4 linked regions of the Homo sapiens genome follow. The protein of the gene in region 2 interacts with the protein of the main gene of each other region in a biochemical or structural test. Each region holds a gene or a part of one and is shown on either strand. Other genes may lie near its edges. The genes, in order: SYNPO, MAGI1, LPP and LRP2.

What was found.
Region 1: the proteins of MAGI1 (region 2) and SYNPO form a complex in vitro, tested with the Homo sapiens proteins (one study listed by BioGRID).
Region 3: the proteins of MAGI1 (region 2) and LPP form a complex in vitro, tested with the Homo sapiens proteins (one study listed by BioGRID).
Region 4: the proteins of MAGI1 (region 2) and LRP2 form a complex in vitro, tested with the Homo sapiens proteins (one study listed by BioGRID).

What each region holds. Positions count from the first base shown.
Region 1 is NC_000005.10:150,636,180-150,643,678, forward strand, and holds the start of SYNPO (synaptopodin), read left to right. Parts: upstream 1-4,480; 5' UTR 4,481-4,675; intron 4,676-7,499. UniProt on the Homo sapiens protein: Actin-associated protein that may play a role in modulating actin-based shape and motility of dendritic spines and renal podocyte foot processes.
Region 2 is NC_000003.12:65,377,918-65,384,942, reverse strand, and holds part of MAGI1 (membrane-associated guanylate kinase, WW and PDZ domain-containing protein 1), read left to right. Parts: intron 1-1,319; coding exon 1,320-1,411; intron 1,412-2,873; coding exon 2,874-3,066; intron 3,067-3,816; exon of another isoform or gene 3,817-3,894; intron 3,895-5,388; coding exon 5,389-5,682; intron 5,683-7,025. UniProt on the Homo sapiens protein: Plays a role in coupling actin fibers to cell junctions in endothelial cells, via its interaction with AMOTL2 and CDH5. May regulate acid-induced ASIC3 currents by modulating its expression at the cell surface.
Region 3 is NC_000003.12:188,150,301-188,157,169, forward strand, and holds the start of LPP (lipoma-preferred partner), read left to right. Parts: upstream 1-3,856; 5' UTR 3,857-3,952; intron 3,953-6,869. UniProt on the Homo sapiens protein: May play a structural role at sites of cell adhesion in maintaining cell shape and motility. In addition to these structural functions, it may also be implicated in signaling events and activation of gene transcription.
Region 4 is NC_000002.12:169,240,524-169,247,548, forward strand, and holds part of LRP2 (low-density lipoprotein receptor-related protein 2 precursor), read right to left. Parts: intron 6,993-7,025; coding exon 6,855-6,992; intron 6,464-6,854; coding exon 6,182-6,463; intron 4,410-6,181; coding exon 4,170-4,409; intron 3,000-4,169; coding exon 2,880-2,999; intron 2,550-2,879; coding exon 2,433-2,549; intron 843-2,432; coding exon 465-842; intron 1-464. UniProt on the Homo sapiens protein: Multiligand endocytic receptor. Acts together with CUBN to mediate endocytosis of high-density lipoproteins. Mediates receptor-mediated uptake of polybasic drugs such as aprotinin, aminoglycosides and polymyxin B.

The sequences.
Region 1 (7,499 bases), on a different chromosome or scaffold from region 2:
GAATCCATGCACCACCTATACATATTTTCTTTAAATTTTGTTAGTGAAATGTCCACTTTAGCCTCTCCTTAAGCAGTAATATACCTGAGATCACAAGTGTGTTCATTATACCTCTTTTCCAATTCACATTTGAAATGTATATAACTATTAAGATTTTAAATATCAAGGTACCACCTAAAATCCTTTTTGCTTCCATTAGTGGTGGGGGCACCACACTCTAGGAACCACCAGTCCAGTCCAATCCCTCCTTTGGACAAATTGGATGCACTGAGGCCCCAAGAGGGTCAGGGATCAGCCCAGTGTCTCACCCAAATTGTGACAGGACAGACCCTGGAACCAAATCTCCTGACTTCTAGTCTTCTTTTCTTTTATAATTTGAGGGAAACATGGAGGGCAGGACTGCATGATTCAGCCTCTCCCTGGCAGGAGACTCCTCCTGTTGGAGTGGGGCCAGACCTGCCTGGTAATTGGTGAATGGCAGCAGAGGAGAGGGCCATGGCAGGGTCAGCAGCCTCCAGCACCCCAGAGCCATGGTGTCCTCCTCTGAGGGGGCCTGGGGTTCAAAACTGGTTCTGGCTAGAAGTGACATGGGGATCCCCTGTGCAGAGAGAACGCGGGGTGGGGGGTGTTGGGAAGGGGGATGGGGTTGGACTGTGTCTGATAATGAGCAGAAGAGTGAGACCAGACCCAGAGAGGGGTGGTGAAGACAGGGAGAGAGACAGATACAGCCCCAGCCTGGTCGAGTTACGCAGAGGTGGGTGTGTGCAAAAGCCTACAGTTAACCACCCCCCAATGTGTGCACAGTGCTTTATACTTTAGAAATCATTGCTGCATTTCATTTACTCAGCAGCTACTCTGCAAAGCAGATATTATTATCCCTGTTTTACTGATGATGAAGTTGAGACTCAGAGAGGTGAAGTGATTTACTGAAGGTAGCCCAGCAATTTGAATAGGATGCCTTGCTGAGCCATAGATGGGGGAAGAACTGGCTGCACCTCTGATTGGATTTGGTAAAGGAGGGCTGTCTGTGGGAGGAGCGGGCAGGCTGAATGGATTCGGGAGTGAGGGGCCGGCTGGAAACCCACAATCCACTCACTGGCCAAATAACCTTGACAAATCACAAAACCTTTCTTTTTGAGGCTCAGTTTCCTCATCTGTAAAATGGGAATAATGGTACTCCCTAACTCACAGCCTGTGAGGATAAAATAAAACAACATGATGAAAAATGATAACACTGAAACCGAATGCCTCGCACATTAGAAGTGCTCAGTAAGCAGCAACTTGAGTAATGAACATGATTGCACCCGGCCCCTGAGGAGTTTGCACACGGTGACCACCTGCCACGACTGAGGGATTCCCAGCGCCTTCTTTGGCAGCTGTGAGCGCGCCTGAGACCCCGTCTGGGGAACCCGCAGGGGTTGGGGGCAGGTTTGTCTGTCCCAGAGCCCCAGGCTGGTGATGACGCCTCCTGGGGATAAACCTCATCTCTCTGTTGTTTACCCCATGTGCGGTGACTTTGTCATTATCGTTCCTCCTGCGTTTTTTCTTTGAGTTATTTATTTTTCTGTGAGGAAGGAATGTGGGGAATTTACCACAGGGCGCTGTCCTTCACTTTCAGCTGGGCTGCACGGCGTCCTTTCCTATAAGAAGGAAGCTGCTGAGACAGATGGCAGGAGAGGTGGAGGCGGAGGGTCCCAGCTGGCTCTGTGGCCCAAGGAGTTGGGGGCAGTTATGTAACCCACCCGGAGGCCCAGGTTCTGGTCTCCGGGCATGAGCCTGGTAATGTACATAGCTCCTGTGGAACTGTGCCTAGCCCTCCCCATTCACCCCTGGCCTCTGGGCAAGCCCAGTGGGTGTGTTCCTCTATCAAAGTTTCCTTTCTATTCAGCTGGTCTTGATTTGGGGTATGGGGGTAGGTAGGGGAGTGGGGTGGGGGTTATCTTGAACCTCCTAGTCTCTGCTGAGCTATCATCATTGCTTAGAATGCTTCCTTATCTCCATCTTTCAAGAGCTAGGACATATGTCACCTCCTCCAGGAAGACTTCCTGGATTGCTTCATCCTAATTCATCTTTCTCTTAGGTTGTATGTTCTCCCCTCACTTCATGAAACATTCTTCCCCTTAGGTCTAACACAGTGATTTGAGATTTCATCTCCTTCCCTCACAAACGTGTTGCTCTCTCCTTCCTTCTCCTCCCACTCCCAGGAACCACCCTCTAGATCTTTGATCTAGAATCTAGATGAATCTTGGATTTAGACAAATCTAAAATTCATCTCCAGGGATGAATGGTGAAGCAAAATGTGAAGGGGGAGGCTTTGGATTCTGGAAGTGCTTGTCCTTTAGTAGTTTATTTAATCAACACAGTGATGGTTTCAACCCCTCCTGGGTGATGGCTTCTGCTGAGTCTGGGGACATTTACAGAGGACAGAGACCAGTCCTGGCCCTAGGCTGGCACAGGGCTAAGGGGAAGGACCACATCTTTGTGGCGGGCCCAGAGTGTGTCAGGCCCTGGGAAGAGTGGAGGGGACCCGCAGATGACCTAGGCCCTGCCCTGACCCTGGCAGAGGCACTGTTTAGGGGAAACCACCTCTTTCCCTGCCCTGGCTTGCCACCTTTTTGTCTTTTAGATTATGTGTTTTCTCTGGAAAGGCAGGGTATGATGGTTCTTTCTGTACTCCCAAGGCTTCCAGGGAGCTGGGGCTGGGGAGAGTGAAACAGCAGGAGGGGGCTTCGTGAGCACAGGCTTAGCTCACCAGGGTTGGACTGGAGAGGTGGAAGCCTGGGCTGTGATCCTGTGATCCTCTCTGTGAGCCCTCCCTTTTCAGTTTGCTGTATACCTGGGGCTCAGCTTGCCTCTCTCTGGGTTACCATCTCAAAGTTTCTAAAAATTGACTGATTATAGATTAATAATTACCCCAGTAGAATGGGCAAGAGAGAGGCTGTGGCTCCTGGCCTTTGGCAGGGCCCTGGTCAGCCAACAGGGAGCAGGGCTTGTGGTCTGCAAGGATAGAAGATGGGTCAGGCTTGCGCTGACTGTGGAGCCCTCATCTTAGCTTCCCCTTACCCATCCATCTCTGCCCTCCCTGATCCCGACCCACTGCCAGCAGAGAGAAACCAGAAGTTTGGCCAGGCCCAGCCTCCTTCCCCTGGGTTTCTGAGTTTTCTCAACCTGCCGTTTCCTCTGAGCTCTGTTCCTGCTCTGGGGCCTCTGGGCCAGGTTGAACAGGGGAGGAGCACTGATCTAGGAGTCTGAATGGATTGATGAGGGCTTCCTACAAGAAGTGGCCGTTGGGCTGGGCCTGGATGGGTGAGTAAGGAAGGTGAATTTGCTTTGTGGGGAGCTCTTCAGAAGGAAGGCGTCCAGGCTTGAGATCAGTCAGACCGCAGGGGCCCCTTGCTAAGCTGTGAGACCTGGGGTGAGTTAGCTGCTTCTGTGTGCCTCATCTTCCTTATCTACAAAATGGGGATAAGGGAACCTCCTCTATGAGTTGCTGTGAGGATTAAATGAAAAAAGGCATGTTAAACCCTTGGCTTGGCAGCATCTGGTGCTCCCAAAATGTTGGCTCTTGTCATTCTCATAGATTTCATGTTTATTCTGCAAGTGCCAATGGAAGATGTGGTGGGGACAAGGGAGGAATACCGAAGTGAAGCAGTAGAGGCCCCTGCCCTCGAGGCCGTTGCAGTCTCTGGGGGAAAATAGGGCCCAGACCCTCATTGCTACAAAGCAAAACACTGGGAGGGGGCAGCATGGCCCACGTGACTGGCCCTGCACTGGGCATTAGGCCAACCTGGGCTTGAATTTCAGCTCTTCCTCTGGCTGGCTGTGTGACCTTGAGCAAGTTGCTGCACCCCTCTGAGCCAGCGTCTTCTCTAATATGGAGATGAGGATAGTGCTGGCCTCATGGGTTGCTGTGGAAGTAAGTGAAGTAAGGCCCTGTCCTGCTACCTGGCATGTGGTGAGTATACCCTGAAAGATTACTTTTACTAGAATAAATAATACACAAGGTGGTGGTTATTAAGTGATGCAGACAGAACATTGGTGAAGGCTTTTTGGAGGGGGTGGTGGCATTCTAGGTAGGCCGGAAATCTGAAGGATTAGGGCATGTAGAAAGGATGTGAGACAGAGGAGGGTTCCCGGTAGAGGGGGTCTGTGCAAACGCTGCTTTGCAGGCAGGAATTCATTGGGCAGCTGTGGGAACTGCAAGCCACTGAACTCCCTCCACTGTTGCTGAGGGCACAGAGAGAAGGTGAGTGAGCTCTTGGGCAGGCCCCGATAGCAGGGGTTTGAATGCCAGGATGAGGACTCTCCTCTTGATCCTCCATGTCCTGGGGAGGCAGCAGAGGGTTTTGAGCAGGAGAGAGGCATGAGTGGAGCCCGGAGGGAGGAAGATGAATCTGGCAGCGTGGGGCGGGTAGATTGGCGGGGGAGAGACTGGGGGTGGAGAGGCCATTTAAAAGGCTGTTGCAAAATCGGTTTTCCTGATAAAGAGCTGGGCTGAGTCATCTGTGGAGGAGAAAAGTCACATCCAGCTCCTTCATGTTGCTGCCGATGTGGGATTTTCCTGGCTTCGTCAGCCAAGCAATTGGCTGCCTTTGCCGGAGGCTTTGAGAACCAAGGCTTGAAGGCCGGCAGGAGCATCCAGGGGGAAGCTTGGCTTCAGGGAGGACCTAGCAGAGTGAGTAAGATGAGCACCCGGAGGTGCCTTTGTGGCTTGGGGTATATGACTTAGGGCATGTGGCATCCCCCCTCTGATCTTAGTCTGTCCTCTGGGCATCAAGGGAGAGGTATGTGGTGATTTCTGCCAGCCTGTGAGTGGTGAGGCGGGGGCTGGGCCTGGGGCTCCCCACCCCATTTCTGTGTCTTCTCCCATGCCCGGCAGTCCTTCCCACCAAAGTCTAGATTGTTCTCCTCCCAAGAGGAGGTCTGGCAGTCTGCCGACCCCAGTCAGATTGCGCTCGCCATGACTCTGGGGATGGAGAATTCTCCAGGGCATGGAGCCTGTGTCATTTCCTCCTTTCAGTGGGAGGAATGGGGAAGGGGCTGGCAAGGTAGCCAGGCCATTACTCAGGCCTCTCCATTTTCCTGCCCCCAGCTGAGCCAGAGGTTGTGCAGTGGCCAGTCATTGGTTCCTTCCTGACCTCACCAGGGGGGCAGTTTACCCAGCCTGTTTACCCTTCCTGTCGCCAAGACCCCTGGACTACCACAATGGGCTGCCTTGAGCCAATCTCTATTCCTACCCCTGGCTCTCTGTCCCACCCCGCCCCACCTGACCCTGGCTGGACACTCCCATTGACGGCATCGTGTGAAGAAGCATTTCCTTGAATTCTCCCTGTCCTGACCTTCTGCTCTGGCCTCCCTTCCCCGGCCCCACCTCCCTCCTGTGGATCCTCCATCCACACGGGCCCCAGTGGTGGGCAGAACAAGCAGCTGTCCACAGTGGGTGGTAGGGGTGGGGGAAAGGGTTTGTCCCTTTCTACGCCAAACAAGAACTGGGGTCTTCTGACTCCCAACATAGTGATCTTCCCACTCTACTCATCTTTCATGCCTTATCAGTCCTTTCTACCTTAGTAAGAATGAGTTTATCAACTCTTCTCCTGAAAGGAAGAAGTGGAAGAAAGAAGGAGTTGTTCTAGGCAGCTGGGTTTTCAGGGGAGAAGACATTGCTGAGGGGCATTGATCACAAGATGAGGGAGCAGAGGGCTTTGCAGACCATCATCCAAGAGCACTGGAGCCTCTCTTGTTTCTCCTCTTTCCAGAGTCCTAGTCTGGAAGGAGAATAGTTAAGAGATTAGACTCAGAGCCAGACTTTTCTGAGTTTGGATTCCAGCTCTGCCACTCATAAGTTGTGTGACCCTGGGCAGGTCTCTCTGAGCCCCAGTTTCATCTGCAGAATGAGAAGAATCACAGGACTTATGTCTGGGAGCTGTTGTAAGAACTGAACAAGGTGGTGAGCATAAAGTGCACAGCACTGAGCCTGGGCTGCAGCAGGGGCTCAGTAGTGACAGCAGTCGTTGCAAAGCCCCTTCTCATGGCTGTGCTGGGGCTTCTCGCCTACTCCCCCACTTCAGGATTTACCCTGTTGGACCCAGGTCTCCTGACCCCAGGCAGCTTTTCATTGTGCCCGCCCTCCACCCCTTCCTCTCTTGAAGGCCTATCTTCAGGGCTCCTGATCCAGTGTCCAGGGTGGGTCTTTAAAGGGCTAGCACCCCAACTTGGCCCTGCAGAAGTTTAGGTGGGGAGGCGGTGGGGACATCATGACTTGCACAAGTGCAGGCCACAGCCAGGCCGATTGAGGGTTCAATGAGGTACCTGTCCCCTGTAGCCTTTGGCTACCTCCCCACCCCCACCTTTGACACCAAGAGCATGATCTTGAGCAGCTGCTGCCTGGGATATTGCCAGAGAGGGCAGCTCCCTAGTCTGAGGAATTTTAGATGGAGTTGCCCCCTGGTGCCCTGCTACGAGGGACTCTAGGGTGTCCCCCCGCCTCCCCAGCTTTGTTTGTGAAGGGTGGCGAAAATCATCTGGATGGCTGGCTGGATCTGGTCCAAACCTCCTGCTGAATTCCTTTTCCATGGAGTCACTGTGGGCTGGAGTGCGGGCTGCAGGAGCTTGCCTTGGAGGGCAGGGCTCTCTTACCTCCTGGCCTTTTCTGCCATTCCTCTTGTTCCAGAACAGTAGCTTGGGAGCAGTTCTAAGCTCAGAGAGGTGGTGGTGATGGGATCTTAGCGGCAGCCCAGGTTGTGCATGGAGCCTCACTGAGAGTCAGCTGACCTGGTCTTGGGCTCACATCCTCCTCTCTGACCTCTTCCTTGGCTGGGCCTCCCAGGCCAGCTTATTTCTAAAGGCCCTTCATATTCTGACATTTGAGGATTTTCTAAACCCATGGCCTTCTAGAGCCAGTAAGGAGAAAAGCAGAAAAATGCAGGGGCATTGAGAGGTCTGGAGTAATCAAACACTGAAGTGCTTTCTATGAGCCTTGCAAGGTGGGAACCGGCCAGCCAGGAGCCTGGTGCTCTCTGCAGTAACGTAGAGCCAGGTGTGAACAGAGCTCTACTCCTTCTGGCTCTGTGATCGTGGGCAGCTCACTTTACCTCTCTGAGCCGTAGATTTCTCATCAATAAAGTGTGCATAATAATAGTTTGTGATTTGTAGGTTTGTTTTGGAAATTAAATAATATGAGTAAAGTCTGTGTATAGGTGTACAGTAAGTGACCAATCAATATTAGCTACTATTGCTGCAACTGTGTCATAAGAAACACTGGCAGGACTAGAGATGTTTATCCTGACCCTGTCCCAAGGGGATCTGATGTATCTGCAAATCTCTGCAGGGCTGTCAGGCTGGAATGAAAGAGAAAACTTTTTGTTGTTGTTGTTGAGATGGAATGTCGCTCTGTTGCCCAGGCTGCAGTGCAGTGGCGTGATCTCGGCTCACCGCAACCTCTGCCTCCCTAGTTCAAGCGATTCTTTTGCCTCAGCCTCCCAAGTAGCTGGGATTACAGG
Region 2 (7,025 bases):
ATCCTAATAAAATTTGTACAGTCACCCCTCAGTGTCTGCTGGGGATTGGTTTCAGGACACCCGCATCCCCCACCAAGGATATAAAAATCCATGGATGCTTAAATCCCTAGAAAATAGCCTAATATTTGTGTGTAACACACACACACACACACACACACACACCCCTTCCTATATTATTTATTTGTTTGTTTGTTGTTTGTTTATTTATTTGAGACAGGGTCTTACTCTGTCACCCAGGCTGGAGTGCACTGGGGCAATCATGGCTCACTGCAGTCTCAACCTCCCTGGCTCAAGTGATTCTCCCACCTCAGCTCCCGAATAGCTAGGAGTACAGGCACACACCACCATACCTGGCTCATTTTTTATTTTTTGTAGAGACAAGGTCTCACTATGTTGCCCAGACTTGAATGCCTGGGCTCAAGCGATTCGCCTGCCTTGGCCTCCCAAAGTGCTGGGAGTGCCACTGTGAGCCACTGCACCCCACCTCCTATATACTTTAAATCATCTCTACATTACTTATGACATCTAATACAATGCAAATGCCATGTAAATAGTTGTGATACTGTATTACTTAGGGAATAACGAGAAGAAAAAAATCTGTACGTATTCATCACAGCTAAAACCATTGTAGGTCTAACAAATTTTCTATCTGTGATTGGTTGAATCTAAGGATGCAGAACCCACAGATATGGAGGACTGACTGTATGCAGAAATACTAGGATGTTTTAGAGTAATTTTTGGCAAAAATGATCTAACAAAGCCTATTAGCATTGCTAGCCTTAATTATTTTAAGGAAGAAGAAAGTGACTTAAAGATAAATCAGAAAGTCTGTTTAAACCAAGCTGTTCTCTTTCATCCTCTAGTAGAGGAAACATCTGGTGACTTAACATGACTTCCGAATCCTTAGATCTGGCTTCAGAGGTGACTCTGACTTAGCCTGAGTGTTCTTGGACATGGACACCTGCTTTGTGGTGTGGCACATAATAATTTTAATTTACTTAATTCTCCTTGCAAGAATACTGAGGAAAGCAGTTAATGCTGACTATTTGTAGTTAAGGATCATGGCTTGGGCTTGATTCGGAATTATCAAACAGTGATGGGTCCTGTGAAGAACTTTAGGGCTCAGTGACTATTCCCACTGTTTATCCCCGTGTCTTCCATTATTTCACCTGTTCAGAGTATTTTGTTTCTTTGCCTATATTGAAAATCTTCCATCTGATCAAGCACCACCATTCTTGTCCTGCAACTGTGTTCATCTTGGGGGTATCATTGCTTTTATCAGTAAAATAATCCTTCTCTTTTTTCTCCCCTCTCTGCAGTTCCAGATTACCAGGAACAGGACATCTTCCTCTGGAGAAAAGAGACTGGATTTGGATTTAGGATTCTGGGTGGAAATGAACCAGGGGAACCTGTGAGTCTTTTGCTTGTCTCTCTTCCCAGCATATTTTTCTAAGGCTTCAAAGCAAATTGGCGACAGTGACAAATCACCAAGATTTAAGTCCAGCTAGATGCAACACTGACTCTTTAATCTTGAGTAGTGTGGGTTTCTCATTGGGTTTTGTGGAGCTCTCTTTGTCTTGAGGAAGAAGAGACTAGATTCTTTCTAAAAAGTTTGTATGAGTGTTTGTGAAAGGTGGGAGCTGCCTCTGTAGACCACCCCTTTTCCCCCAAGGGAGATGAAAACAGAAAGCAAAACAGGAATAGGCATCACCTAATATCACAGTGGCCTGGTCCTTCTGGCCAGGTCCCTTCACTCTGCCAGCAGGTAGTAGGCTTTGTATGTTGAGTTGCTGGTGTGCAGAGAGTACTTCGCAAAGCCTTATGAGACAGTGATTGGAGAATGTCAGACCCCTGCCTTTACAAAACTTGAGAAAGAACCCTGAGTAAGGGTCAAGAAACATTGAACTTCCCTGGGCCTCAGTGTCCTCCATTTTGGAATAAATTTAGAATAACATAACAGGGTTCCTTTGAAGGAAGAAAAGAAAACTGAAATAGGTATCGTTAATTTCCTTGTGGTAATAACAGCCATTATTCATCGAGCGCTTACTATGTGCCAGGTTCTGTGCTAAAGGCTCTTAACATACATTCTCTCATTTATCCGTCAAACCCACCAGTTTATCCCGTTTTCACATCAAGGAAAAGAAAGGCTAACTAACTTGCCCAAGATCGCAGAGCTACCAAATGGAGGGACTGACAAATAAGGTCTGACTCGAGTTCATGTTCTTAGCAACTATTTTGTCAAAGTTCTTTGTAAACTATAAATGCCACGTAAAGGTAGCTATAGCATTATTGTCTGCTGGAAAGGCAAGGCAGGCACAAATATTTTAGCTAAGGTTTAGTGAATGGCAAATATAACAGCAAGACACTAACTATAAAGAGTGCTCTGCTTTCGGGTGCTAAAAGACTTCAAAAATGGAGATGTCCAACCAACTTTTGCTTCATTCATTCATTTAAGAGTATTTATTACAGATTCCCTATTCCTAGGCATGATGCTAGACCCTTAAATAAAAGTAATATTAATATTTTAATTAGCAGAGTTTTATGGAAAGAGAGTTTTTAGGTAGCTACCAAAGAAGAATAGGGTATATAATGAAGGGAGAAAAGTAATTTATATCTGCAAAGGGGAAAAAGAGAGTGAGTCATCAATAGGCCACAGATAAACATCTGGAAACTAAGCAAGAAATACTCTTTCCACCATTTAAGAATTGTTGCAGTGCTTAGCACAATGTCTTGTACACAGTGGGTGCTCAATAAATGTTTGCGGCATGCCTGCAGACATGAATGAATGAATTGTTCCCAGAGATGTGAAGGCTATTGATGTAACAGTAAACATAGGAGAGCAATGTTTCATCCATCGTTCAATTACTCAACAGATTTATATTGGTCACATCGTACCACTGGGTGCTGCTGATACTGACGGCCGCCTGAGGTCTGGAGATGAATTAATCTGTGTGGATGGGACGCCAGTAATTGGAAAATCACACCAGCTTGTGGTCCAGCTTATGCAACAAGCTGCCAAGCAAGGCCACGTCAATCTCACGGTGCGGCGTAAAGTGGTTTTTGCGGGTATGTATTTCATTCATTCCTTCAGACAGTGCGTTGTCACTTTATTCACAGAAAAGGCCTCCTTCCTGTGTCTGCCTCCTTGAGCGTCTATTTTAGCAAATGTTTGCAAATGTGATCAAGCTCAGAATTTCCAGATGGCTTGCTTCTCTCAAACCCTGCAAAAATTACTGTCATTCTAAAGTACTTTAATGTGCCGTTTGCATGTGTTCAACAAAGGCTTCCAGAGGAAGGCTAGTTGAATATATATTACTTCCCTTCTATCTCCTTGCAAATCAGAACTTAGCCATCCTCTTCATTTGATGCTAATCCTCAGCAAATGAGGTCATTATGAAAGTCAGAAGAGTTGTAGCTTCATATCAAGGGAACAAAAATCGGGTTTGTGCTACAAAATAAGCTCATAAAAAAGTTACTGATTTCTTACTGTCCTATGTATTAAACCAAGATTTTTTTTTTTTCTTTCTACAAGAAAGTTGTAGAGCTGGCCAGTTCTAGGTCAGCTTTGATTCCTTCTTCCTGCCCATAAGCTTTGAACTTTAATTCTCAAAATACTACATATCCTTTCAGGCTCAGCTCAAATATAACTTTCTTCCCTTGGAAATTCCTCCTTCCTCCAACTGCCTTCAGATTTTAGCATTCCCTCCTTGCCATTCTAGTGACTCATGGTTTACTGCTGTATCAGAATCTGCCATTTTGAGACAGTGAATTGTGTGAGTGTTTGTCCTTTCCCTTGAAAGCTCACGTTGAACACACCTTGGTTGTTCACCTTTGGATGCAGCTCCCACCTTGAAACCTTTAAGGCAGAACCCAGAGTGCAGCAGAGGTGATTGTCTTCTATCAGTGGAATTACTGGAGAAATATGACCTGAAATATTATGAATTCTCTTGGCATTCATATTAGTGAAACAGATACCTGTCAGATAAAATTAATTGGTAACTTCTTTTAAAAAAAAAGAGTATAACCCATTTTAAATGGTATATGATTAATTATAGAATTAAGATGTTAAATTCCAGTGTGTTTGTGACCTCACAATCCTTCTTAACATACTATTCCATGTAGCTAAAAGCAGTCAGCTGGAACGAGTTTTTGAGATGAGATGAAAACTAACTATCTCGCTTCCCTGGCCCAAATAGAAATAGTAAGGCAATGTGATTTTTTTTGTTGTTTCAGGTTTATTTTTTTAAATCTTAAATATTTTGGATTTTTAGCTCTGTGTAAAAGGCGTGTCAAATCTATGAAGAGACATTATGCAAGTGAACTAGTCACAAAAGGAGAAATATTGATTCCCTTTATATGAGATACCTAGGGTAGTCAAATTTATAGAGATAGAAAGCAGAATGATGGTTGGTGGGGGGTGGAGGAAATAGGAAGGGGAATTAGTTTTTAATGAGTACAGAGTTTCAATTTGGGAAAATGACAAAATTCTGGAGATGGATGATGATGATGGTTGCACAAAAATGTGAATGCACTTAATACCACTCAACTGTATGCTTAAAAATGGTTTAAAAATTTGTTATGCTTATTTTTCCAAAATTAAAACAATCTATGAAAAGAGAAGCTTTTGGAAATAAATACAGTCTGATCCAAAACTTGGACACAACACACATTTTGTTTTTTGGCATAGTTGGTTCCACCTACGGTGTTGGCTATTTAGGAGTGCTTTACCTTGCAGTCTGATGGTAACACTAGAACGGTGACTAAATTCAGAAGGAGGCCAGTGTATCCAGTTCTGTGATCAGAGTCGATGTTGACACCTGGAAGCTAAGAAGAGAAGCATGTGTATGTCTCACAGGTGTTGTCATGAACCCCACATAGGGCGGGTAGCCTCAACGTTACCATCACCTTACTGTTTGTCGCCTGATGGAAAAAGCTGGGTGGAAATGTGACTGGAAAGTAATGACAATGTGAACGTGCATCCAAGGTTGTATCTATGAAGCCAAGATGGCGGTCTTCACGGGTGTAGCCCTCACCTACGCTTAGGCCCTTCCCTTTGTGCAATGGGGAAATATTTCACAGCAGGCCGATCTTGCTGCAGACTTGATTCTGAGTGTGGATGTCGACATATAGCATGCTATAAACAACAAACGCTATTTGGGAGTCCCATTTGGTGTTAGGTGGGATCAATGTTCGTAGATACTGAATGGTTAATATTTGTCAAGAGAAGCTGCTTTCAATCCGTATATCCAGGTATTGTGAAACCAGGTGCTGTCTCCTCCCCTCGGTTCACGTTTTGATTTCTAGCAGGAGTTGCTGGAAGGAGGGAGGGGCAGCAGGATGGAGGGGCTGCAGGACACGGTGATGTACGCGTGCATCTCTCTGCTACAGTGCCCAAAACCGAGAACGAGGTGCCCTCGCCAGCCTCCTCTCATCACAGTAGCAACCAGCCGGCCTCGCTGACAGAAGAGAAGCGCACTCCGCAGGGCAGCCAGAACTCGCTGAACACGGTGAGCTCGGGCAGCGGCAGCACCAGCGGCATCGGCAGTGGCGGCGGCGGGGGCAGCGGCGTGGTCAGCACCGTGGTGCAGCCCTACGACGTGGAGATCCGGCGCGGGGAGAACGAGGGCTTCGGCTTCGTCATCGTGTCCTCGGTGAGCAGGCCCGAAGCAGGCACGACCTTTGGTGAGTGCTGAACGTGAAATTACCCAGGGTTTCCCACCATGCCTGGGAGTTTTTGTTCTCTTGCGAGTGAAAGCTGACTCAGACCTCACGTGCAGAAATGCTTTATAGCTTCTTGCTCTGGGTAATTAAAGACTTAATTGGAGATGGAGTTGATTTGGTAGCTTTTTCCCTTTTGAAGGTTGGGAATATTTGTTCAACCCTTTCAACTTCCACACTGAGAATGTGATCACGCATACACAACTTAAAGCATACATCAGATTTGCGTGAAATTTGAATAGCAGCCGGGCGCTGTTGCTCACGCCTGTAATCCCAGCACTTTGGGAGGCCGAGGAGGGTGAATCACTTGAGGTCAGGAGTTTGAGACCAACCTGGCCAACGTGGTGAAACCCTGTCTCTACTAAAAGTACAAAAAGTAGCTGGGCGTGGTAGTGCATGCCTGTAATCCCAGCTACCTGGGAAGCTGAGGCAAGAGAATCGCTTGAACCTGGGAGGTGGAGGTTGCAGTGAGCCGAGATTGTGCCACTGCATTCCAGCCTGGGTGACACAGCGAGACTCTGTCTTAAAAAAAAAAAAAAAAGAAAAGGAAAGGAAAGAAAAGAAATTTGAATAGGAACCCCTGGACAGCATACAGAGTCTACAGTTTTTGCCAAAGCAAGGCTTTCGAAAGGTCTTGAATAGGATAGCACTAATTGCAAGGGCCTCAGAATGGTCTTAAGAATGTCTTAAGAGTTTTTACAAGGAGCATACGGCTGTAAAAATGCTCTAGGAAAAACAGAGGTGTAAGGAGTAAAAATACTACATGAGATGCTAGTCTGCCTCATCTGTGTTCTTTCTCTACTCTATCCCCATAGGAATTTTTTTTAATTTTAAATAATATTTTTACTGTTGCTTGATTTAAAGTCTGGTTAAAATCTGAGTTAAGAGTCATTCGATTTTCCTGTCTCGTCCAGACATTGAGGGTTTCAGCAAAGTATGGAGAAACACAGTTGTCACTTTCTCAGAAGGATTCACTCTCTTCTGGGTACACTAGCAAAGACCAATAGAAACCCAGATGATTGCAGAAACTAGTGATATATGAATCTGCTTCCCATTGCAATGGATTGATTATAGATGTACACTCCAAAAATGATCCACCTTCCTGATTGGGTAAAAAGTCATTTGTTATCTCCCAAGCACATTTGTTACTTACTATGGAATACAATGGGAGAAGGGGAAGGGCTGTGCAGGCTGTGTGGGCTTTTCATGTACCTCAGCTCTATCCCTGAATGACTTATCCACATGGAAACTGGCTAGAATCAGCAAGGTGCTACAACCCTTTAGCATTCTCATCCAGTAGAGCTCAC
Region 3 (6,869 bases), about 120 Mb from region 2:
CAGCACTTTGGGAGGCCGAGGAGGGCAGATCACGTGGTCAGGAGATCGAACCATCCTGGCTAACCTGGTGAAACCCCCGTCTCTACTAAAAATACAAAAAAAAAAAAAAAAAAAATTAGCCGGGCGTGGTGGCGAATGCCTGTAGTCCCAGCTACTCAGGAGGCTGAGGCAGGAGAATGGTGTGAACCCAGGAGGTGGAGCTTGAAGTGAGCAGAGATCACGTCACTGCACTCCAGCCTGGGCGACAGAGCAAGACTCCACCTCAAAAAAAGAAAAAAAAAAAAAAAAATGAGCTTACTCAGCTCTTAACACAGAGCTAGTACTTAAACTCCCTGGGCTTTAGGGCTTTAGTTTCTTCATGGATAAAATAAAAAAATAATAATGCCAACCTCAGAAGGGGTCTTGTGAGAGTTAAGTGAAATGTATATGAAAACTCCAAATAAGGACTGGCATGAGCTACACAAAGGCCACGTGTACAGGACTGTAATGGATGCAAACGAAAGGCAGGACCCAAGCCCAGCTTGCCTAAAAGTCTTTTATGCCATTACTGAACCCATGAAAATGCTGCTGGTAGCCTTTAGGCCACCAGTGTGCTATCCTTGGCCCAAACGACCCCACACTACACCTGAAATTCTGTGTTTTAGCCTCTGAATTGGTAAACCAGTATTTTTCTACCACTGAGTGCAAATTCATACAACCTTTCCATTTCACGCAAGCGCCTGCACGTAGAAAGTTGTAACAGGAGGTTGAGAAAAGTAAGAGTACGAAAGAAACCAGAACAGTAAATGGGAATGAGGCTTTTGGTAGGGTTAGCACTGACGACAACACTGTATGCAGTTCACTAAGCATCCAGATTATGACTTGGGTGGTTGTACTCTTGGGAAGTTCCTCATGAGTCAGAATTATCTTTTGTAGTTAACTTTATATGATGTTCATGCTAACACCATGCTCACCATGCTCACCTGAGCAATTCATAAACATTTCAGGAGGAGAAACACAGTGACTTCCCCAACACACCCATACAACAGTTTCAACATAATTAGTAGCATTTCTGGATCCGGCACAGTACTCTTATAATGTATATGATGGAAGAAATGAACAACTCTAATTACACCTTATTAAATCTTAATCCTCATTAGGACCCTATTATTCCTTATAAGTGAGTTACTGAAGGAAAAAAAAAAAGGAAATGCTGGTCAAGTCCCGTTATATTCCATGAGGATTGAGATAATCCATTTTTACTTCATGTAACACTGGAATTCTTTTCATACTAAACAGTAGTACTCAGAATGTGAGTACGCTGAAATGTTTGAGTGAGTGGATTGTGTTTTGATAGGATCTGACCTTTTCAGAACCCCAGAAAAAACTCTCTCCAAGAGCCCGTATCTCCCATTTCAAACTATGTTAGTTGCAAAGAGATAAATTCTTTATTAGTCTGTGGAATGGGTGGTTATTCTCGACCTTATCTCTCTGTTACTGCCTTCATATATATATATGTATGTGTGTATATATATATGTGTGTGTGTATATATATATGTATATATATGTGTATATATATGTATATATATGTGTATATATGTATATATATGTGTATATATATGTGTTTGTATATATATATATTTTTTTTTTTTGACAACAGTCTTGCTCTGTCCCCCAGGCTGGAGTGCAGTGGCGCAATCTCGGCTCACTAAAACCTTTGCCTCCCGGGTTCAGGCAATTCTCCTGCCTCAGCTTCCGGAATACCTGGGATTACAGGCGCTCGCCGCCACGCCCAGCTAGTTTTTTGTATTTTTGGTAGAGATGGGGTTTTGCCATGTTGGCCAGGCTGGCTCGAGCTCCTGACCTCAGGTGATTTGCCCGCCTCGGCGTCCCAAAGTGCTGGAATTACAGGTGTAAGCCACCGCGCCCAGCCATGTTCATATTTTTGTATGTGTACATTAGATAGTTGAGAGGAACACAGAGGTTAAGTAGTCTTACCCCTGAAATGTCTGAATTCAAACACTTATTAAGCACAAGGAAGGTGCTTAATAAATCCAATAACATGTGTTTTTACATTATTTCCTTAATTCCTGGTCAAAAGAATCCCACTAAAGTCCATCCTCAGAAGAACCACTTTTTGGAGTTTTTATGAATCAGTAGCTCATGGTGTACTCTCAACAGTTATGAATGGAATTAGGTCCTGCTAGAGGTCAGGGCCAGGTATGGAAAGATGAAGGGATTAGTCAGGAGACCTGGATGGGAGGAGGGGAAGACAGGTGCTTGGTCAGTCAGTTGTTTTGTGTTGGGCGAGTAACGTTTCTTAAGTTTTTGTCTGAGGTGTAAAGGGGGGACTACGCTCTGTCCTATCTAACTCACCTGAAGATGCAATAGCCGGGTGAGAGACTGCTTTCATTATGTGCTAACGTGAGGGATTACTTTAGATATTAATAGGAGAGAAGTGCAAGGAAAGGAAGTCTCAGGGTATGGAATGCTTTCCTGGCCATGGCTGCTGCGCGTCATAATCCCCTAACACAGTTAAGTGGTGGTTCTCATCGTCGTTCACCCTTACAGATGTCAGAGGGGAAAGAAAAATCCAACTCAAAACTTCCAATGACAGGCTTGTCTGTATTCAAACCAGTTCATCTCGTTCGCAGACTTTTTTGAAGCTATAAGCACAGAGCAAGCTTTCTGGGCGGGGCTCAGAAGTAAACGTTAAACTCCAGGGATTCATTTATTTGAGCACAGGACAGAGGAAGTTGCCCTGAAGCAACTGATTGTCATTGATATTCAGGGCTCGCTGTCAACCAGGACCTTCCAGGAACTGGCTCTGGGCCAAGAGCAGTAGAAATCACTGGGTGGTCCGCACAGCTCGCGGGCATCTAACCTGCTTCAAGGCTCAGGGCTAAAAGGGAGCCAGGGCCCTTCCTGGAGGCGGGAACCCAAGTGGGAGGCAGAGCGCCTGGGCCCGCTCCTCGATCTGCTGAGTGACGACCCTGTACAAGTCATTTCTCTTCCGAGAGCTTCAGTTTCCTCACGTGCCAAGCGGACGGGTTGGAAGTTGGTCTTTGCCAGCTCTGACACCTTGTAAGTTTTGAGTCTTGCTGGGAATCCAGGGCGGGGCTCACGAGGAAAATCTTGGAAGGGGATTTCATGGCTGGATCTCTTCCACTCAAGCTCAGTGCCCTAATTTGACGCCTTAATAGTAGACGCAGGCTTTTCCATTTTCCAGGAGCCCCCTGACGCGGCCGCTTCCTCCTACGTCTCCTTCCTCTTCCTCTAGCAGGGGCAAAGTCTCCACATCTCCCTCTTTCTCTTCCTCCTTTGCAAGCTCCCTGCATTCCCGCGTCTCCTCCTCTTCCTCCCAGGAAATGCAATGCCCTCAGTGCGCCCACCTTTTGGCAAAGCCACTGCCGGCTGCGGGTTTCCCCTCCCCCGCCAGGCGAGCTCTGCGCGGCGGCTTCGCGGGCACACGCCTTCCCATACCTTACATGGACAAATGCGTGCAGGCAAAGTCAGGAATTCAGGCCCCTGACGTCAGCCTCCAGCGCTCAGGGCACCGCACGGGAGACCAAGGGGAGGGGGTGGGGACGGTGGGGAGGAAGGAGGGGGAAAGGCACCAACCAGCAGCCGCTCCAGCCCTGCCGAAGTTTCACTTTTTGTCTGTGGGTTCGTTCCCGGGTCCCGCGCGAGCTTTCCCGGGATAAGTAGCTTTAGCGATCGGGAGACAGCCGGGCGCTGCAAGGTAAGGGCTGGCTGCACGGCCCGGGGCGCGGGGCGTGGGGCGCTGGGCGCGGGCGGCGCGCTCGAGGAGGCCAGTGTGGGGCGCGGGGCCGGGCCTGTCCGGGGCTGGGGACAATGGGAGGGGGAGTGCCCGGGCACCTCCTCCTCTGCCTCTGCCTCCGCCTCCAGCCGCCGCCGCCGCCGCCGCCGCCGCCACCACCACCGCCGCTGCCCCGGCTGCCTCCTCCCTGAGGTATTGTTGCAAATCCTTCCTTCCCCTCACCCTCCACCCGCGGGCGCCTCGGGAACCCCCAGCCCTCCCCCGGCGCGAGCGCCTCCGGGGTGGCAAGAGCGCAGGGCGCGCGCCCTGCTCTGGCCTGGCCCGCTGTGCGGAAGTGCCGGCCGCGGCCCAATCACGGGGTGCACGCCATGGGGGAGGGGGACCCAGAGTTTTTCCAAAAGCGTCGACCCCAGGCTAGGCGGGGTTGGAGCCTTGCGCGCCCCCTGCCCGGACTTTTCTGGGCGCCCAGGGGGCGGGGCCACGCCCATCCGCTTAGAGCTTTCGCGGAATCACAGTTGTCACAGCGGAAAGGGCCTAGACCCAGTCCTCCAAGTCCTCCCATTTTACAGTTGGGGCAGCTGAGGCCCAGAGAGAAGGAGGGTCGCCCGGAAGTTATTTACTAGAGGCCAGACCATAATTCAAATAGTTGGCTCCGGACTTAAGTTCCCTTTCTCTAAGCATTTCTCTAGCACCCTGTGTGTGGCAGACCCTGTGCTGGGTGTATTGGACGTTGCCCTCAAGGAACTCAGTTGAACCTGGGAGTCAAACCTGGCCTAGGGTAGAAAATGCTAAGTGCTGGAGCAAAGGCGTGGACAAAGTTAAAGGAAGTTCCAGGGAGGGGGTTTGATTTTCTGGTCCCTGGGACGGCCTTTTGGAGAGTCCTGCACTGAATGGGGTTTTTGGAGGTTGAGGAGTTTCCTGAAGCCAGCTAGCGGCTTGGAGGAAGACATCTCTTCGAGGGAACCGTGGGCCAGAGAAGACTAAGTAGTGTGGGAAATGGAGATGAAAGTATAAATATTCTTTAGTTGGAGGCAAGGGGTTGGGGATGGGGGAGGTTGTGATATGAGATGAGCTAATCAGTGGAATTGTGCCTGGGTGCTTGGACAGGGCAGAGTCTTTGGAACCTCGGAGTCGTAGGAGAACTGAAAAATCTCTCTGGCTTCCCTTCCCTTAGAAGGGATCCACTGCTTTCCCTCCCCCAACACAAAACAACTAGCGAGAACTCAGGGTCTTCTCTGGGGCTTTTGCTAGTACCAAACTCACTTAACTGTGTTTCCAGTCCCCTTTCTCTTTCCATTCCTTCCCCTTTTACTAAATCTCTTGCCTTTCCTGTAAAATTCACTCTCACTAAGGTGTTGATGACTTAATGGCTTACCTTTCCCTGCACATGTGCATTTTAAGAAAGCCTAAAGTGAAGAAGGGGAAAGTGTGGCTAGGCACCTTTACAAAGCATCTAGCTCCCTCTCCCATCCTCCCCCTTCCTCAACTCTTATAGATAGAAGAATAGGTAAAGGTCCACGAAGGTGGGTGCTAGACCTAGAGCCTATGGTCAATAATGGTGGACAGTGGGGGGTTAGGACATCCAATATGGTTTTCTCCACTTCGTCACCAGTTTTTCTGCTTGCACAGTTCCTGCCAGCACCAGGGGGCAGTTAAAGGAAAAAGTGTGTGGGCCAGGCACGGTGGCTCACGCCTGTAATCCCAGCACTTTGGGAGGCCAAGGCGGGCGGATTGCCTGAGCTCAGGAGTTAGAAACCAGCCTGGGCAACATGGCAAAACCCTGTCTCTACTAAAAATACAAAAAATTAGCTGGGTGTGGTGGCGGGGAACTGTAGTCCCAGCTACTCGGGAGGCTGAGGCAGGAGAATCGCTTGAACCCGGGAGGCAGAGGTTGCAGTGAGTTGAGATCACACCACTGCACTCTAGCCTGGGCGACAGAGGGAGACTGCCTCTCAAAAAAAACAAAAAACAACAACAACAAACAAAGGAGAGTGTGCATTTTTGCATTTAATTTCTACAATGCAGGCCCCAACCCCAACACCCAAAACTTTATAGTCTAGAATGTAGGCTCCAGAGGGGATTACCTATTCTGAATGGTAGGGGTAAAAGCCTGGGGCCTTAGGGTCTGGCAGTCCCCCCAGAGGCAGGCTCTCTGTAAGCAGCATGGGTCTAGAGTTGGTTTTGAGTGTACGCAGAGGGAGGAGAAGCTGAGCTGATGAGCTGATTGCTGTGGCTGGGACTTGAGTAGGATCTTTCTTAGAGTGACACATTCTGGTGAAGACAGTTCCAGGAAATGATGGACGGGAGAGGAAACTTGGTTATAAAGGGGCTTAAAAATGCCAGGCTAAGGAGTTTGGATATATCTTAAATTCATCATTTGAGGGTTTTGAGCAGGCTGAGACATGATTTAGAGGGGAGGTACTGGCATCGAGAAGCCCCCTGCTGCCCAATTCCAATGAGAGAGGTAATAATTTGGCCTAAGAATATTATTGGCTTGGCACGATGGCTCAAGCCTGTAATGCCAGCACTTTGGGAGGCTCGAGGCAGGTGGATCACCTGAGGTCAGGAGTTTAAGACAGCCTGGCCAACATCGTGAAACCCCGTCTCTACTAAAAATACAAAAATTAGCCGGGTGTGGTGGCATGTGCCTGTAGTAGTACCAGCTGCTTGGGAGGCTGCGGCAGGAGAATCACTTGAACCTGGGAAGAGGAGGTTGCAGTGAGCCGAGATTGCACCATTGCACTCTAGCCTGGGTGACAGAGTGAGACTCCATTTCCTCTGCTGCGCCCCACCCCCCCAAGAAAAATAATATTATCAATTGGTTCTTGTTCATTTACTCGACATAGGTTACTGAATACCTATTACGTACCATTGGCAAATATGAAAATTTTATAGCAGATTCCTGTATTTTATTGAGACAAATACGTTGTATCGAATCAATTGTAAAACACACTTTTTTCACATTTTAATATCACTGAAATGTGGTTGTCTTATTACAATGTACCATAGTTGTGCAGTTGTTTTTCATCCTAAGTTGGTAATGGCACATCTTATAGTTGATGGCTTAAATCTGATAAAATTGTTCATCATGTCGTTTATGAATGTACAG
Region 4 (7,025 bases), on a different chromosome or scaffold from region 2:
GAGTGAGCATTGATTAAAGAGGAAAGAAAGAAATGACAGTAATTAGGATTACATGCCAATCACAGCACTTTAATCACAGCAACACAAATCCCTGGACTTCATTTTTTTGTGATAAGTTCTGATTGAAATTAGAAAATATTAAAGTTAGAAAAATTAATGAGCACATTACCAACAGAACCAAATTTAATTTGACAATCTAATGGCCTCAATTTAGTCTCATTTTTTGAAACAAAGACATAAAAAGAAGTAAAAACACATAACCAAGTACAAAGGATTTAATCAGAAAATTATCCAATGGTGATGTATTTGAATTCAATTATGGTTACCCCCTACACAGATGTGAACTCATAGAGGAACTGAAATCCTTCCTACAAAGCTACACAGTGACTGTGACAATGGTGATGCACACCAGGCTACTGTTCAGAATGAGTTTATGGCCAGTAAACTGTGGTCAGGAAACTTACTGCAAAGTGGGGACTCATCTGTCCCATTGGGGCAGTCAAAGATGCCATCACACACTACACTCAGATTCACACAGATGTTATGGCCAAGACACTGCCATTGCCAACTAGGACAGCGAAAGGGCTGAGTAGGGCAGTCCTTCTCATCACTCATATCCCCGCAGTCATTGTCCCGATCACAGAGCCATGCCCTGTGGATGCAGTTTCCGTTGTCACAGTGGAAATATGATGAAGGGCAAGTCTTGGGGACACAGGCATTGTGCTCATCAGATCCATAGAGGCAGTCTGGATGCCCATCACATTCCCAGAAGTTCGGGATGCAGATACCATCTTCTTGGCACTGAAATTCATCTGAGTGGCACATACCAGGAGGCCTGGTTGCTAGAAGGAAAACATGGGGTAAATCGGCTTGTGAATGTAATTTGTGATCCCTTTTATAGTCTAGACTCAGAGGAAATGATTTTGGATCCAATAGTAGGTTTATAGTAACAACTATGACCAAATTAATATTTAAGGCTAAATGATATAGAGTCTTCTCCCACACTCTAGTACATAGAAATATTTCTTTGTGGCAGCTAGTGGCTCTGACAACAAACGAAGTACAGAACGCACAACTGCTGACTAGCAGATGAGTACCTGTGTCAAAAGAACATCCTGTTTCCTTTTCCTGTGTTTTTAATGTACTTCCAATTGCAGATTCAATAATAAAGTTTATCTATCTTTCTATGAAAGAATCACCAGAACATTACAATAGAGCTTAAATAGCTATGATTACTTTGAACTTCATGTGTTTCATATCATGTTTGGGTGTTATTATTTTCCCTCAGATGAACTATACCTAATGAAACCATCACACACTAACTAAAGATGATGGTAAATACTCAGTTCTTTGCAAACTTTCCACTATTCATCAAGCAATCCTGGAGAGATACGTAAGAACTGCTTCCCTATTTGACAAGGGTAAACCAAAACTCTCTACCAGGGATCTCACAAGGCAACAGCAAGCCAGCGGCAATTGACAGTTTAACCTCAGCTCATCACAGAATTTTATGTTTTTAATGTGAAACAGGAAAATTAGTGATTAGTAATTTCTAGATGTTGTGCAAACTATAAAGTATATAAGCATTTTATTTAACTTTTCTTTTTAATCCATGGCTTTACACACTACCTTTCTGACGCAGGAGGAGAATTCATGAAAACTTACTTTTTTGGTCTAAAACACCATTGTTCAAACAAATGATCAACTCACTGATGAGTTTTTGCAAGTCTAAAATCCATTTAAAACAAAAAGTGGGCAAATAACAAATCATGTGAGTATAGGTTTCCAGTCTGTGAAGATTATAGATCCATCAGAATTATACTGTATGAAGTCCTACTTGAATCCTCCAACTAGAAGAAATTTCTTTTCTCTGAACCTCCATAGAATTTTATCTGTGCCATTTCTAAGACCCTTGTAACTGTCTATCTTGCTTAATTGTCTCTTGCCTTCTATAATCTCCATAGATAACATCTTAGCAGATATTCAACACATAATAGCACAAAGAATGAATTCATCAGAGTCAATACTAAACACAGCTCCATACCATTTCTACACCATGATATGACTTCTCTACTGAAACTTAAAAGAAACCAGTAAAATATCTTTATATGGAGTAGAGCCTCAAAAGTTTAAACCTACTAAAGTGGGAAGTCCTAAGAAAAACTAAAAGTGAAAACAAAAATATCTAAGAAATATTTAGCCCATCTAAGAGACTATTTGAAGTGTCCATTTATACAACCACTTGATTTGTTAATTACACATTATATGGCAATGTCTACTCAATTTTACTGTATGTTCAATACCACATTCCTTTGAGGATACTTTCCCCCAGTTTGTCTGAGTTAGGGAAAATGTGTGGCAATATCAATATCAATACTGGCAAAAATGAAATGACCCCTTTGTCTGAAACATTCTGGGTATGTGTTACTTACGACAGCCTGCTTCATCCGAGTTGTCACTGCAATCAAAAACACCATCACAACGATTTGTGACGCCAATACATTTATCCCCACTGGCACACTTGAATTGAGAAGCAGTACAGTTTAATACTAAGAATGAAAGAGAAAAGCATTAGAAATTAGCTCAGGGCTAAAATGACTAAACACTGAGATTTTTCTTTTTTGTTGTTATACTTTAAGTTCTGGAGTACATATGCAGAACATGCAGGTTTGTTACATAGGTATACACGTGCCATGGTGGTTTGCTGCACCCATCAACCCATCATCTACATTAGGTATTTCTCCTAATGCCATCCCTTCTCTAGCTCCCCACCCCCCAACAGGCCCCGGTGTGTGATGTTCCCCTCCCTGTGTCCATGTGTTAACACTGAGATTTTTCTAAATAAACATTGTGAATAAAAAAGAAGGCAATGCACTTACCACAACCAACCTCATCAGATCCATCAACACAATCCTTGTCACCATCACAGACAAACGATAGGTCAATACATCGATGATTGGGGCAATTAAACTGACTAGGTTGGCATGTCTCTGTCGAATCTAATGTCATCCGAAAACAAAACCAACAAGTTTATTTCCTGTGCAACAAGTACCAGAGCCAAACTAAAAATGGCTAAATAGCTACAGAAGTTATCTCAATTGTACATGGGTTCAAAATTCTTTTGAATCAGCCACACTATCAAAGTCAGCTAAGCAAAAGAACTCAAAACTAGGATAGGTTTTAGAATTGAGAATAAAAAGATTACAGGGCAGAGTCAGAAACTGTGATTACACCTTGGAAAATAGACCACATTCAGAAAGTGAGCATCATGTGCTTGGACTTGGACTACATTTCATGAATACTATGAAGTCCATGACTCTAGACCAAAGCCAAGCAATGGAGCCCAATCAGGCAACAAAACCAGCATGACCCACATGCCTAGTAGCAACAGTGTGTAGACAGACCCCCAAAACTGGATTTAAAAGTCTGAACAGAACAATTCTAAAAACCAGGGTCCTACCTTACTGTTAAGACCATAGCCTTGGAGTCGGATGCAGTGGCTGGCCCCACCCACAACATGAAATTATATTAAATACACACTTATAGGGTATGAAAGCTAGAAGGGATCTTAAAGCTCATCTATTCCAAATGATAGTGACTTGCCTAGTCAGGCAACCAGGACTAGAACTTAGCCCAGGGAACTTTGCTCCATCTTAAACTATTATTGAAGACATGAAATAAAACAACAAGCTAAAGGAAAGCAGAACTGGCAAGATGGAAAACAGGTGGATAAGATCAAAGGAAATTTAAATTTTCTGTGCCTCTTTATTTTGATGTCTTTTTGCTTGTACCAAATGAAAAAGAAACATCAATAGCCAAAGGTCTGGATATATCTATATGACTTTTAGTATTGTTTTAAATATATAAATAGATAGCTGAGGGATTTTCACTTTTTCAATTCCTATCTGAATTGAAATGTTTGGCATCAGAGGCAGTCCTTGCTTTGCTTCCATAGAACTCAATATTTGTAGGTGGACTCTAAGAATCCCATGTGCAGGCACGTGCCTTTGTTCTTGTAACCTATTGACACAGAGATTGACAAGTGGAATAGAAGTACTAAAGAGACAATGAAAATTGCATGAGCCTTAGAGGAAAGAATGCAAGGCCATTTGGTTGTTGAAGTCTATTTACGAGGCTGACCAACCAAGGGAAACCAGCTCAAAACTTACTGCAGTTCTTTTCATCAGATCCATCCCCACAATCATTGTCTGTGTCACAGACCCAGTTCTTTGAGATACACTGGTGATTATCACAGGTGTATTGGGTGTCAAGGCAGGAAGCAGGTGCGTGGGTGGGGCAGTTGTGCTCATCACTGCCATCCACACAGTCGTTGCGTTTGTCACAGCGCCAGTGTGCAGGAATGCACTCCCCATGGCCACAGGTGAACGCCGAAGATGAACAGGTATTATCTACAATAGTAACAAACTGGTCATGAAGACATTTGTTTTTACAGCCTTTTAAATGAGTTCTTGCCTTATAAAGGCTCAGTTCACCTTTTTTAATGGAGGCATTGTATATAATAAGGAGAAATGTTCATCAAGTGATGTCATCATCACTAACATCATTATTGGCTGGCATTTATTTGGTATTTATCATAGAAAAGGCATTTTTCTAAGTTATGCACCCACACACATCATATAAGTTCTCTTTAAATCCTCACAAGAATACTATAAAGTACATATAATTGTCTGCATTTTACAGATAAGGAAATTGAGTCTTTGAGAGATTTAGGAACCTGCCTATGATTCACGCTCTGGTTGGATTCACTCTAAAGCTCATCCTTAACTTTCAAGCTGTTACTTCCTCCAACCACAATTTCAAATTCAGACTATAGAAAGCTTGAAAATATGTCATATGAAAAGTGCAAATAGATAAAATATTAAGGTAAAATGCTGTGCTCTTAGAAACAAGAAGATAATACACAAAAAGATGAAAATTTAAAAAATTTCAGAAAAATGTACAAGTGAGCACTTTACTCTTGCAAATCTGTCACTCCTCTTTCTCTCCAAAAGAAAGGTTATTATTAGTATTAACTTCACCTTGATAGAGATTTCTGAGATTTCAACTGTCCTCTATCTTTTTTTTAATTTGAATGTAATACTTTTGCCTTCTGCAATAGTGTTTATTAGGCCCCAAACTATATAGACTAGATTACCGTCAAAAGAAGAATATAAAGGTTAAGACCACCATTTCATTGTTAATTTATTTTACTCTAACATGGGAGAAAAGGAATATAACACATGAGATTTTCCAAAGGCTATGATTGCAAGTAGTTATTCTGTGATACTATTCTCTCGGTTGCTAAATGTTAGGTCTACTTTATTTTTGGTTTTTGTTGTTGTTGTTGTTTGTTTGCTTATTTTTTTGAGGCAGGGCTTCACTCTGTTGCACAGGCTGAAGTACACGGCACAGTCTTGGCTAACTGCAGCCTCAACCTCCCCAGCTCAAACAACTCTCCCACCTCAGCCTCCCAAGTACAAATTTTTGTATTTTACAAATTTTGTGAAAATACAAAATACAAATTAGCTGGGTGTGGTGGCATGTGCCTGTAGTCCTAGCTACTTGTAATTTTGTTTTTTTTGTATTTTGTAATTTTGTATTTTGTAATAGTCCCAGCTATTTGTAATTTTATATACATATTTTTTTCTGAGCTCATCTATTTCTTTTTTATTTATTTATTATTATTATACTTTAAGTTTTAGGGTACATGTGCACAATGTGCAGGTTAGTTACATATGTATACATGTGCCATTTTATATTTTTTGTAGAGACCGGATTTCGTCATGTTTCCCAGGCTGGTCTCAAACTTCTGGACTTAAGCAATCCTCCTGTCTCGGCCTCCGATTACAGGCATGAGCCACCTTGCCTGGTCAGATCTAGTTTATTTCGATTTGACTTTTTGAGGAGTTTGCCAAGACATAATGACTGCATTGGTCCAAACAGCCAATGTCAAGGAAAAAAATTGTTGAAGATAGTCTAAATCAAGGCCAGAAACCATCCATAACATTATGAATGAAATTTCTTGCTTAGCTTCCTAAAAGCCTTCAAAGTGCATGTTAAGAATCTGAAATTCTAAAAGATATTTTTCCCATATAAATAGCCCAAGCTTTTATTTATTTTCTTTAAAGCCCACCTCTACTCTATTCATCCCAGGAAATATCGCCAGTGCATAGCTACTTACTAAGTGTGCCACATAGTTGCTCATCACTGTTATCATGACAATCATCGACTCCATCACAGAGATAGTAATTGGGCACACATCTGCCATTTTTACAGGGGAAGGAAAATAAGCCACACTGCTCTGTGGGTGGTTCATTGGTTGGGTCCCCCTCGCATGTCAAGTGATTGGAAGCCAGCCTCATTCCATAAGGGCACCCACACACTCGCTGGAAATTTGGCACCGGGAAGCAGAAGTGGCTGCAGTCACCGTTAGGATGCGTGGGTTGATTACAGGCGTTAGAACCTGCAAAAGCAAAGCCCCGAGGGAGTCAGTCATGTACATTTTCACTAGGTAGGTCACGGGTTTGATTTGTGAAGGAAAACAAACAGGACAAAACATTTTTCAGACCCAATACTAAAAAGTAGCTTCCTCTTGGAAATCAACCCGCCAAATACAACATTCCATTTAGGTATGGAAAAGTCCCAAAATGTGTTTTTCCTGACAACATGTTTAAGGCTAGCAGCATTGAACAGAGATTTCAAGTCTTACACTCTTAGATTATGTGAACGACAAGAATATAAAACTACCAGGAGCTAGACCTTTAAGTAATAAGTACTTAAAGAGAACAGGAGCCACTGTAACAAATAAATAAACCCATACAAAAAAATAAAAAAAACTGGGCAATCTCACTCACCAGTCTGGATGTTGACATCATACGATTTCAAATGCAGTATGTAAGCAATGCCACTTCGGATAACTGTCATTTCTCCACCATCTGCTTTCCTGACTCGAATAATGGCACCCAGTCTCCAGTCAGTAAAAAATAAATGCTCTGAAAAGAAACATGGGTAGATTAGTATTTTCA